Linked DNA regions of Homo sapiens: region 1 is linked to region 2. The links come from fine-mapping of genetic effects on gene expression. A gene starts in region 2. The other region holds a variant in brackets. All regions are shown on one strand. Distances are between the middles of the regions. Region 1 has its middle 26 kb from the start of ZFAND2A-DT. Region 2 holds the start of ZFAND2A (zinc finger AN1-type containing 2A).

Region 1 (5,512 bases), 26 kb after region 2:
ACAAGGACTTTACCTCCGTTCAGGGTGTGGAGTGCCTGCCTTTCCTGGCGATATTGCAAAGCCCAGAGTCAGGCTTTTTTTTTTTTTTTTTTTGAGACAGAGTCTCACTCTGTCGCCCAGGCTGGAGTGCAGTAGCACGATCTCGGCTCACTGCAACCTCCGCCTCCCAGGTTCAAATGACTCTCCTGCCTCAGCCTCCCGAGTAGCTGGGATTACAGGTGCCCGCCACCACGCCCGGCTAATTTAGTATTTTTAGTAGAGACAGGGTTTTGCCATGTTGGCCAGGCTGGTCTCGAACTCCTGGGCTCAATTGATCCTCCTGCCTCGGCCTCCCTAAGTGTTGGAATTGCAGGTGTGAGCCACCACACCTGGCATCATTCCTTTTTTTTCAGACGGAGTCTCGCTCTGTCACCCAGGCTGGAGTGCAGTGGCACGACCTCGGCTCACTGCAAGCTCTGCCTCCCAGGTTCACACCATTCTCCTGCCTCAGCCTCCCAAGTAGCTGGGACTACAGGCACCCACAACCACGCCCAGCTAATTTTTTTTTTTTTTTTGTATTTTTAGTAGAGACGGGGTTTCACCGTGTTAGCCAGGATGGTCTCGATCTCCTGACCTGGTGATCCACCCGCCTCGGCCTCCCAAAGTGCTGGGATTACAGGCGTAAGCCACCGTGCCCAGACTAATTTTTTCTATTTTTAGTAGACACGGGCTTTTGCCATGTTGGCCAGGCTGGTCTCGAACTCCTGACCTCAGGTGACCCACCTGCCTTGCCCTCCCAAAGTGCTGGGATGACAGGCGTGAGCCGCCGCACCCGGCCTCGGGTTCTGTGAGGTTCATCTGTGTGGCCATGTGCAGCAGTTTTCCTTGCTTCCTTATCGTGTAGTATTCCATGATGAGTGCATTTCACACCCACCCGTTCTGTGATGGGCATCTGGGCTGCTTCCTTGGTTTTTTGGTTTGTCTTTTATTTTTTCCCCTAGAGACAAGGTCTCACTCTGTCACCCAGGCTGGAGTGCAGTGGTGCAATCATAGCTCACTGCAGTCTCGACCTCCTGGGCTCAAGCGATCCTCCCACCTCAGCCTGCTGAGTAGCTGGGACCACAGGTGCCCACCACCATGCCTGGCTAACAACTTCGGGAGGCCAAGGCAGGTGGATCACCTGAGGTCAGGAGTTTGAGACCAGCCTGGCCAACATGGCAAACCCCATCTCTACTAAAAATACAAAAATTAGCCAGGTGGGGTGGCGGGCACCTGCAGCTACTCTCAGGAGGCTGAGGCAGGAGAACTGCCTGAACCCAGGAGGCAGAGGTTGTAGTGAGCCAAGATCATGCCACTTTGCTCTCCAGCCTGGGTGACAGAGCGAGACTCCGTCTCAAAAAAAAAAAAAAATTATTTTTTTGCAGCAATGGAGTCTCACTATATTGCCCAGTCTGGCGGATGCTTCCATTTTTTGACTGTTATGAATATCATGCTCTGACCAGCGCTGTTTCTGGGTGGCCACAGGCACCCCCTTCTGTTGGGCACCTGCCCAGGCGTGGAACTGGAGTCTGACATTCACGTGTTCCTGGTTCAGCAACATGCACTGAGAATGTGCCACACACGCGGCCAGCCCTGTCCCAGGGACAGAGCTGGGAACTTCTTTTCCAGCTGCCATTGAAATGGCTGGTGAGGACTGTGGCCTCAGGAGTCAACGCCTCGCTGTGCACCTCTCCCCTGCCTCGGTCTCCCGACCTGCCATGCCCTGAAAGGATGGCGCCTCTCAGCGTGGCGACGCGGACCGAGCTGTCTCCATGGTCATGCTGTGGCCCCGACACCCACGGCCCCTCCGTGGACTTTCCCTGCCGCCTTTTCCGTCCACCCTCCCCCTCCGTGGAGGACTTTCCTTGCCGCCTTTTCTGTCCACCCTCAGCCCCCAGCAGGGAAGACTGGCTGAGCACTGGGTGTCCACAGGCTGTATGTGGACAGGGTCTACAGGGCCCCCGCCAGGTGCAGCAGAGGCAGTTAGATTGTCAGTCCCGGGGTCCATAGTGGTCCGAGCCAGGCAGCAGGATCTGAGGAGAAGCTTCAGGCAGACGGGGGCAGGCACAAGCTGATGTTATCATTGCAACGGGGAAACCGAGTGAAGAGCTGCTGGGGAGTTCAGAGGCCCCCAGGAGTGCCGGTCTCGACCCAGCACCTGCTCCCCACGGGGGCCCTGCAGCCAATCGCCCTACCCGAGCCCCCCGCCTTGCCATGGAAAGTGTTTAATGAACGAGGCCAGGCATAGTGGCTCATGCCTGTAATCCCAGCTGCTTGGGAGGCCGAGGTGGGCGGATCACCTGAGGTCAGGGGTTCGAGACGAGCCTGGGCAACATGGCAAAACCCCATCTCTACTAAAAACGGAAAAATTAGCTGGGCATGGTGGTGTGCGCCTGTAGTCCCAGCTACTTGGGAGACTGAGGTGGGAGGATCCCATGAACTCAGGAGGTCAAAGCTGCAGTGAGCTATGATTAAACCCTGAGCTCCAGTCTGGGTGACAGAGCGAGACCTGTCTGGAAAAAAACAAAACAAAACAGAAAAGAAAGTGTTGAGTGAAAACGTCTTCAGGTGCCTTTCACCTTGAGAGAGGGCACGAGGCTGAGGGCGCCTTCCCGTCCTCCGAAGCCTCCATCCCTCCCCTGGCATTTTGCCTTTCACACTGTAATTTCTTTCTTGAGAATCAGCCGACCGAAATTAAGTCTCCCAAATTCCTGAGTAAGCCGAAAAGCTATTTTTCTTGCAAATCTTAGATGAACATAATTTAATATAAGGCATAAACTAATGCAATAAAGACCATATATTACAGCAGTGGCACAATTAAAAAGCAAAAGCCGACGGAAGAGACTGACAGACAGCGTGTTAACCACAGGGAAAATAAAATAGAAATAAGAGGTAGGTTATATTCTGTGCATAAATAACTTTAAAGAGGAACAATAAATGACTTCTATAACTTTTAATATATGTGTTGGAGATTATTTAATTGCAGTGAAGTAAGAAGTGATAAATTGAGCTGAAATTTTACATGATCGGGATTAAGTTAGTTCCTGGCCAGGCACAGTGGCTCACGCCTGTCATCCCAGCACTTTGGGAGGCTGAGGCGGGAGGATCACCTGAGGTCGGGAGTTTGAAACCAGCCTGGCCAACATGGTGAAACTCCGTCTCTACTAAAAATACAAAAATTAGCCGAGTGTGGTGGCGGGCGCCTGTAGTTCCAGCTACTCAGGAGGCTGAGGCAGGAGAATGGCAGGAACCCGGGAGGCGGAGCTTGCAGTGATCCGAGATCGTGCCACTGCCCTCCAGCCTGGGCGACAGAGCGAGACTCTGTCTCAAAAAA[G/A]AAAAAAAAAAAAAGTCGGGGGGGAGATTAAGTTAGTTCCTTAAAAAAGAGACAAGCAAGTAGAATTTTTAGGCACATTTGAGACTCTGGAGATATGCGAGAATGTGTTTTTGTTTGAGTGCCGCAGACCCCAGCAGGGCGAATCCCCCTTCATCTGAAAAGTGCACGTGGTCTTTAAAACTGTTCTTGTCTTTTGAAATCTCTTCAGGTGGAATCTGTTTAGCAAGAAGGAGGAAGGGATGTTGACACACACAACGTGGGTTAATCTACAGAGAATTGTGCTGGATGAGAAGAAGTCAGTCCCAGAGGCTGTGACCCACATGGTTTCATGCCTACGATATTCCTGAAATGACAGCTGTGTAGAAATATAGGTTACGGGCAGCGCGGGGGCTTACGTGTGTAATCCCAGCACTTTGGGAGGCCGAGGCGGGTGGATCACGAGGTCAGGAGTTCGAGACCAGCCTGGCCAACATGGTAAAATCCTGTCTCTACTAAAAACACAAAGAAATTAGCCAGGCGTGGTGGTGGGCACCTGTAATCCCAGCTACTTGGGAAGCTGAAGCAGGAGAATCACTTGAATCTGAGAGGCGGAGGTCACAGTGAGCCAAGATCTCGTCGCTACTGGACTCCAGCCTGGGTGACAGAGTGAGATTCCATCCCCCTGCACCAAAAAAAGAAGTCTGTCTCTATCTTCTCTTTTTGTTTTTTTGTTTGTTTTTTGTTTTTTGTTTTGAGACAGAGTTTCACTCTGTCACCCAGGCTGGAGTGCAGTGGCACAATCTTGGCTTACAGCAAACTCCGCCCCCTCGGTTCAAGCAATTCTCTGCTTCAGCCTCCTGAGTAGCTCGGATTACAGGCGTGTGCCACCACACGTGGCTAATTTTTGTATTTTTAGTAGAGATGAGGTTTCACCATCTTGGCCAGGCTGGTCTTGAACTCCTGATCTCATGATCCACCTGCCTCAGCCTCCCAAAGTGCTGGGATTACAGGTGTGAGCCACCGCGCCCGGCCTCTATCTTCTCTTTTGAGAAGTTTTGAATTTGAATTATTGAGTCTTTGAGTCTGTTTTTGTTTTTGTTTTTCTAGACAGGGTCTTGCTCTGTTGCCCAGGCTAGAGTGCAGTGCAATCGTATTAATAGCTCACTGCAGCCTCGACCTCCAGAGTTCAGGCAATCCTCCCACCTCAGCCTCCTGAGTAGCTGGAACCACAGGCGTGAGCCACCATGCCCAGCGAATTTTTAAATTTTTTGTAGAGTGGGGGCGGTGGGGGGGGGTCTCTATGTTTCCCAGGCTGGTCTTGAACTCCTGGCTCAAGGGATCCTTCTGTATTGGCCTCACAAAGTGCGGGGGTTACAGGCATGAGCACTGCTCCTGGCCTGCCCAGGCTTCTGGGAGTGCCAGAGGCACCTTTTTTCTCTGGCAAAAACTCTAGCTTACTTCTCTTTGACCAAAAAGAAAGAAGCAGGCATCTCACCACATTCTGTACATTAAGATGATTAATCTACCATGACTTTTTAGTCTAAAATGATGGCATTGCTTCCCATAAACCTAACCCTAACCCTAACCCTAAACCTAACCCTCCTCCTGCCAAGGCAGGAGAGTTGCCTGAGCCCAGGAGTTTAAGACTGGCCTGGGCAACATAGGAAGACTCCATCTCTACAAATAATAGGAAGAAGAAGAAGAAGAAGGAGAAGGGGAAGAAGGAGAAGGGGAAGAGGAAGAGGAAGAAGAAGAGGAAGAGGAAGAAGAGGAAGAGGAGGAAGAGGAAGACGAAGAAGAGGAAGAGGAGGAAGAGGAAGAGAAAGAGGAAGAAGAGGAAGAGGAAGAAGAGGAGGAGGAAGAAGAGGAAGAGGAGGAAGAGAAAGAGGAAGAGGAAGAAGAGGAAGAGGAGGAGGAGGAAGAGGAAGAGGAGGAAGAGGAAGAGAAGGAAGAGGAAGAGGAGGAAGAGGAAGAAGAGGAAAAGGAAGAAGAGGAAGAGGAGGAGGAGGAAGAGGAGGAGGAAGAGAAGGAGGAAGAAGAGGAGGAGGAGGAGGAAGAGGAAGAAGAAGAAGAAGGCGGGCAAGGCCTCCTTAGTCTGTGACCCCACCTCCTCCACTGTCCGTGGCGCACCTGGCTAGACGGGCTGTCCACTATGGGCAGCTCTTTAACGCTGAGGTTTGG
Region 2 (5,172 bases):
CAGACGGTGAAGATGAGAATCTTTTGAACAAAGGATCAATTACCTTCTGGAATGCAAACGGACACTTATGTGCAGCGTATGGAAAATGATCTTTACAGAAATCTTGTTTACATGCATCACATTTTACTGGAAGAAAATCTAAAAAACAAAAAACAGGGAAGTGTTTTAACGACTGGAACAAAATACTTCCAGATAGTACTATCAAAGTGTTTACCTACACTAAGTGTTTTAGGCCTATGAGATGGACAGGTCCTCGAGGGCCACACATGTGAAAACAATCCCAGGGTCAGGCTGTCTTCTAGAGACCCCCTATGGCATCGCAAGTATTCCAGCAGCCCCCTGGATCCACCTGGCCCTGCTAGCCAGCCTGCACTCCTGCACCCAGCCTCTGGTGGATGCTAAGTGTCAAACAGAACCTGCACCAGCACAGTTCCCAATACTGAGGAGCCAGGAAGGCCAAGACACAATTATCAGCTAATTAACAGAACAGCCAGCTTTCCCCCAACAAAATACCATTTTCTATTAAGTCTCTTAAAAGTACTCACCTAGCTGCTTGCAAGTCTTTTCTGAACAATGCTTCCCCAAATCAGGAAACTCCATTATGAGAACAGTGCTCAAAACGCAGATGGCGGAGTTAAGTGTCACCTACAAGAGAATCAGAATAGTTAGGAGGAAAGCTGGACTGCCCTTCAGTCACCAGGATTTACAATGTAATTACAGCTAATGAAAGTCAACAAACGCACTGTGTGGGGAGCATTCCATGGAGTTTTAGTACAAATACCAGGTGTCCGCCATTCGTAGTCAACCCCATTAAGAGACACGGACTCCTTCACAGGCCTTTTAATTCCTAGTCTATGAAGCACTCCTTGAACTCGGGTTTCTATTTAAACTCACACTGAGGGGGCGAGAGCTAATTCACACAGCTGCCAGTGATGATTACGACTTTGGTGAATTTTAAGTCACAATTTTATCCATGGAATATACTTGTTCACATAAACAAAACTCTGTTACTAGGTGCTAAATCACATCAGTTGACTCCATTATCCAGAGAAGATTTAACTCTGTCCCTCGCCTCTCTCTTCAACTCCCTTAGGCATTGAATCTTACTGTGAACTTATTCCTCGATGACATCAACCTGGAGTTGATCAGGGAGAAGCGCAAGCTGTTAAGTCACTATGGAAAACAGGCAGACAGCTGGTGAAACTACCGCACTCGAGAGAGAATCAAGGGGCTCACGAGGTCCCCTCCATGATCTAGTACCCACCAGCCCTCCCGGGGCCTTTTCCTGGGGCTCACGAGGTCCCGTCATCTAGTACTCACCAGCCCCTCCCGGGGCCTTTTCCTGACCTTCCCATCAGCTCTCTCCCCACTCCTGGAGGCCTCCTAGACTGTCGCCTAAGACTGGAACACTCTCGCCCATGGCAAACGTCTAGTTATCCCCTCCCGCCTCAGTTTAAAGCCATTCCCACCCTCCCCAGTTCCCTCTATGTTACACGCCCGCTACTTAAGGTGCCCATTAGTCCTTTCCCAGCCCTCCTTCGCCCACAGCTTCCAACTACAGATCCGCTGCTTTACTATTAGCTCCCGGTGCCCGACACACAGCAGGCGTTCCGAAATTGTTTTGTTCAAGGAATTCACAAGAGTTTGATGTGAATCCCCAAATGATTTTGTTCTGGACGCACAGCACCCGTCCTAGGAAACCAACACCCTACCCTGGCGGGCCGGGCCCGCAGCAAGAAAACACACATCTACGTGGCTGTCACTCGGCTGGCGGGTTAACGACCCCGTGCGACCCGGTACTACGGCCCCGATGGCAGGCCCGGCCCCCAGCAGACAGCCGGACTCCCAGCAGACAGGCCGGACCCCCAGCAGCCAGACCCCGGCAGGCCCGGTCCCCAGCAGACAGCCGGACCCCCAACAGCCAGACCCCGGCAGGCCCGGTCCCCAGCAGACAGGCCGGACCCCCAACAGCCAGACCCCGGCAGGCCCGGTCCCCAGCAGACAGGCCGGACCCCCAGCAGCCAGACCCCGGCAGGCCCGGTCCCCAGCAGACAGGCCGGACCCCCAGCAGCCAGACCCCGGCAGGCCCGGTCCCCAGCAGACAGCCGGACCCCCAACAGCCAGACCCCGGCAGGCCCGGTCCCCAGCAGACAGGCCGGACCCCCAGCAGCCAGACCCCGGCAGGCCCGGTCCCCAGCAGACAGGCCGGACCCCCAGCAGCCTGACCTCCAGCAAGCAGCCGGACTTTCAGCAGCCGCACTCCTAGCAGACAGGCCGAACCCCCGAGCAACCTGACCTCAAGGCAGGCCCGACCCCCGGCAGACCCTGTCTGCGCAATCCCGGCCCCGTACCTGGCTCTCGTCGGGGACCCAGGCAGCTGAGGTGAGCAGCAGATGGAAGAGACGTAAACTCAGGTGTCCTCCTCCGTAGTCGGCTCCGGGTAGCTAAGCAGAAAGAACCTCGACACTGGCACCGAGACGCCGTCGGAGGCACACCCACACCCACACCGGAACGCAACATCTCGCTGCCCGCGGCCTACGGGGATTTATCCGCAGCCCCCGGATCTGAGAGCCGTCTGGGCCTTGGGGTTTCCGGGCGCGCCCCGACAACGTCACCCGCAGACCGGCCAATCCCGCCAGGCCGCGGCCCAGTGGCGCCGGCGCACACCGAAGACGACACCAGCCATCCGGCCAATCCCGCCCCGCCGCGCCCCGCAGGCCCGCCCACTCCTCGCTTCTCCACTTCCCTTCTCGAAGTGTCCGGTCGCTTCTCGCAGGCGGCGCGCTTGCTGGGTCACAGTGAGGCGGCTCCGCGCAGGCGCAGCCGGGCGGGCGAGGAGCGGGGAAGCTGACTCAGGGCTGCGGCCGGGGTCCTGCGGGGTAGGAGCGCGAGGCCGGCCTGAGGGAGGAGGCCTAGCGACCCATCCGGCGCCTCCCGCCCCGGGCACCCGCCCGCGGCCGCGCATCCTGCGGGCCCCAGGAGGCCTCCATCTCAAAACAACGTGTTTTTAGGTAATTTCAAACTTAGGGAAAAGCTTCAAGAATAATACCGAAAATGTCAGTGTCCCCAGCACCTAGATCCCCCAGTTAAATCCTTTTCCATTTCACCGCGCTGCCCCCCGCCCCCTGGACGGTTATGTGGCCGCGTGGGGTTGGCTCTGCCCAGGGCCGCGGTCACTGCACAGAACGCCCTGCACGTAAGGGGCTCCGCCTGGGTAAGACCCCGCCCAGCTGGGCAGGAGGAGGGCGTGGGCCCAGGACATGGAGACCAGCCTGGGCAACATAGCGAGACCCCATCTCTGCAGAAATAAAATATTAGCCGGACGGTGCACGGTGGCTCAGGCCTGTAATCCCGGCACTTTGGGAGGCCGAGGTGGGAGGATGGCCTGAGGTTAGTGTCTCACATGTCTGTGTGAAGAGACCACCAAACAGGCTTTGTGTGAGCAACAAGGCTGTTTATTTCACCCGGGTGCAGCCCGGCTGAGTCGGAAAAGAGAGTCAGCAAAGGGCGATGGGATTATCATTAGTTCTTACAGGTTTTGGGATAGACGGTGGAGTTAGGAGCAATGTTTTGCAGGCAGGTGGTGGATCTCATAAGGTACATTCTCAAGGGTGGGGAGAATTACAAAGAACCTTCTTAAGGGTAGAGGAGATTACAAAGTACATTGATCAGTTAGGATGGGGCAGAAACAAATTACAAGGGTGGAATGTCATCAGTTAAGGCTGTTTTCACTTCTTTTGTGGATCTTCAGTTGCTTCAGGCCATCTGGATGTATACATGCAGGTCACTGGGGATATGATGGCTTAGCTTGGGCTCAGAGGCCTGACAGGAGTTCAAGACCAGCCTGGTGAACATGACGAAACCCTGTCTCTACAAAAATAAGAAATGAACGCAGCATGGTGGCATGCACCTGCAGTCCCAGCCTCTTGGGAGGTGGAGGCATAAGTCAGCTGTGAATGCGCCCTGCACTAGAGCCTGGGCAGCAGAGCAGACCCTTCCTCAAACCCAAAAAGCGTCGTGCCAACCAGACCAGATGGTCGCCTAATCAATAGAGACCATGCCCAATCAGGTAAGGACAGACACAACCAGGCATGCTTTTTCTTGTTTTGTTTTTTGTTTGTTGTTTTGAGATGGAGTTTCACTCTTGTTGCCCAGGCTGGAGTGCAGTGGTGTGATCTCGGCTCACCGGAACCACCACCTCCTGGGTTCAAGCGATTCTCCTGCCTCAGTCTCCCAAGTAGCTGGGATTACAGGCATGCACCACCAGGCCCGGCTAATTTTGTATTTTTAGTAGAGACGGGGGTTTCTCCATATTGGTCAGGCTGGTCTCAAACTCCCAACCTCAGGTGATCTGCCTGCCTCGGCCTCCCAAAGTACTGGCATTACAGGCGTGAGCCACTGCGCCCAGCTTGTTGTTTTTCTTTAGACAGTGTCTTCCTCTGTGGCTCAGGCTGAAGGGCACTGGGATGATCACAGCTCACTGCAGCCTCCACCTCCCAGGCTCAAGCCATCCTTCTTCCTCAGGCTCCTGAGTAGCGGGAGCTACAGGCATGCGCCATCATGCCTGGCTAATTTTTGTATTTTTTGTAGATACGGGGTTTTGCTATGTAGCCCAGGCTGGTCTTGAACTCCTGACCTCAGGTGATCCCTCTGCCTCAGCTTCCCAAAGCGCTGGGATTACAGAACATGAGCCACTGTGCCCGGCTTATTGTACAGTCTTTACTCTCGGTTTTCACCAGAGAACTCAAGGGCTGTGAAAAGAGCAGGACCTCACCAGCTGCACGGCGGTGGTGACTGGCTCCATCTTGCTGTCCCTCCCAATCACACAACATCTCCCCTTGAAGGCTCTGCCCAGGCCCGGACTCCCACCTTTCAAGATGTCTGGATCAGTGCAGGACCTCCTCCTTGGCCACATCGCTCTCCTTGGACTGGTTCGTTAACCCTGTTTTACCCACATTTTCTTTTTTTTTCTTTTTCTTTTTTTTTTTTTTTCTGAGACAGAGTTTCATTCTTGTTGCCCAGGCTGGAGTGCAATGACTCGGTCTCGGCTCATTGCAACCTCCGCCTTGCAGGTTCAAGTGATTCTCCCACCTCAGCCTCCCAAGTAGGATTACAGGTACACACCACCACGCACAGCTAATTGTTTTGTATTTTAGGAAGAGATGGGGTTTC

The links. PIP is the estimated chance that this variant, and not a neighbour inherited with it, causes the effect.
Region 1: its variant is the best candidate, but not a certain one, in a credible set for the expression of ZFAND2A in CD8 T cells (CEDAR, PIP 0.57).

The regions. Positions count from the first base shown.
Region 1 is chr7:1,183,750-1,189,261 of GRCh38, forward strand. No RefSeq gene overlaps it. Among named protein-coding and RNA genes, the nearest start is that of ZFAND2A-DT, 26 kb to the left of the region's middle. The variant G/A (reference allele first, on the strand shown) is at 3,353.
Region 2 is chr7:1,157,613-1,162,784 of GRCh38, forward strand. It overlaps ZFAND2A (zinc finger AN1-type containing 2A), which reads right to left and starts at 2,584. Exons shown (of 5, transcript NM_182491.4): 1 at 2,352-2,584; 2 at 546-645; 3 at 44-138. The coding sequence starts at 600. ZFAND2A-DT (ZFAND2A divergent transcript) reads left to right here and starts at 2,762. Exons shown (of 3, transcript NR_110069.1): 1 at 2,762-3,011; 2 at 4,740-4,931. RefSeq lists enhancers at 1,686-2,200, 2,201-2,713, 2,714-3,227, 3,228-3,740 and silencers at 2,523-3,062, 3,073-3,122.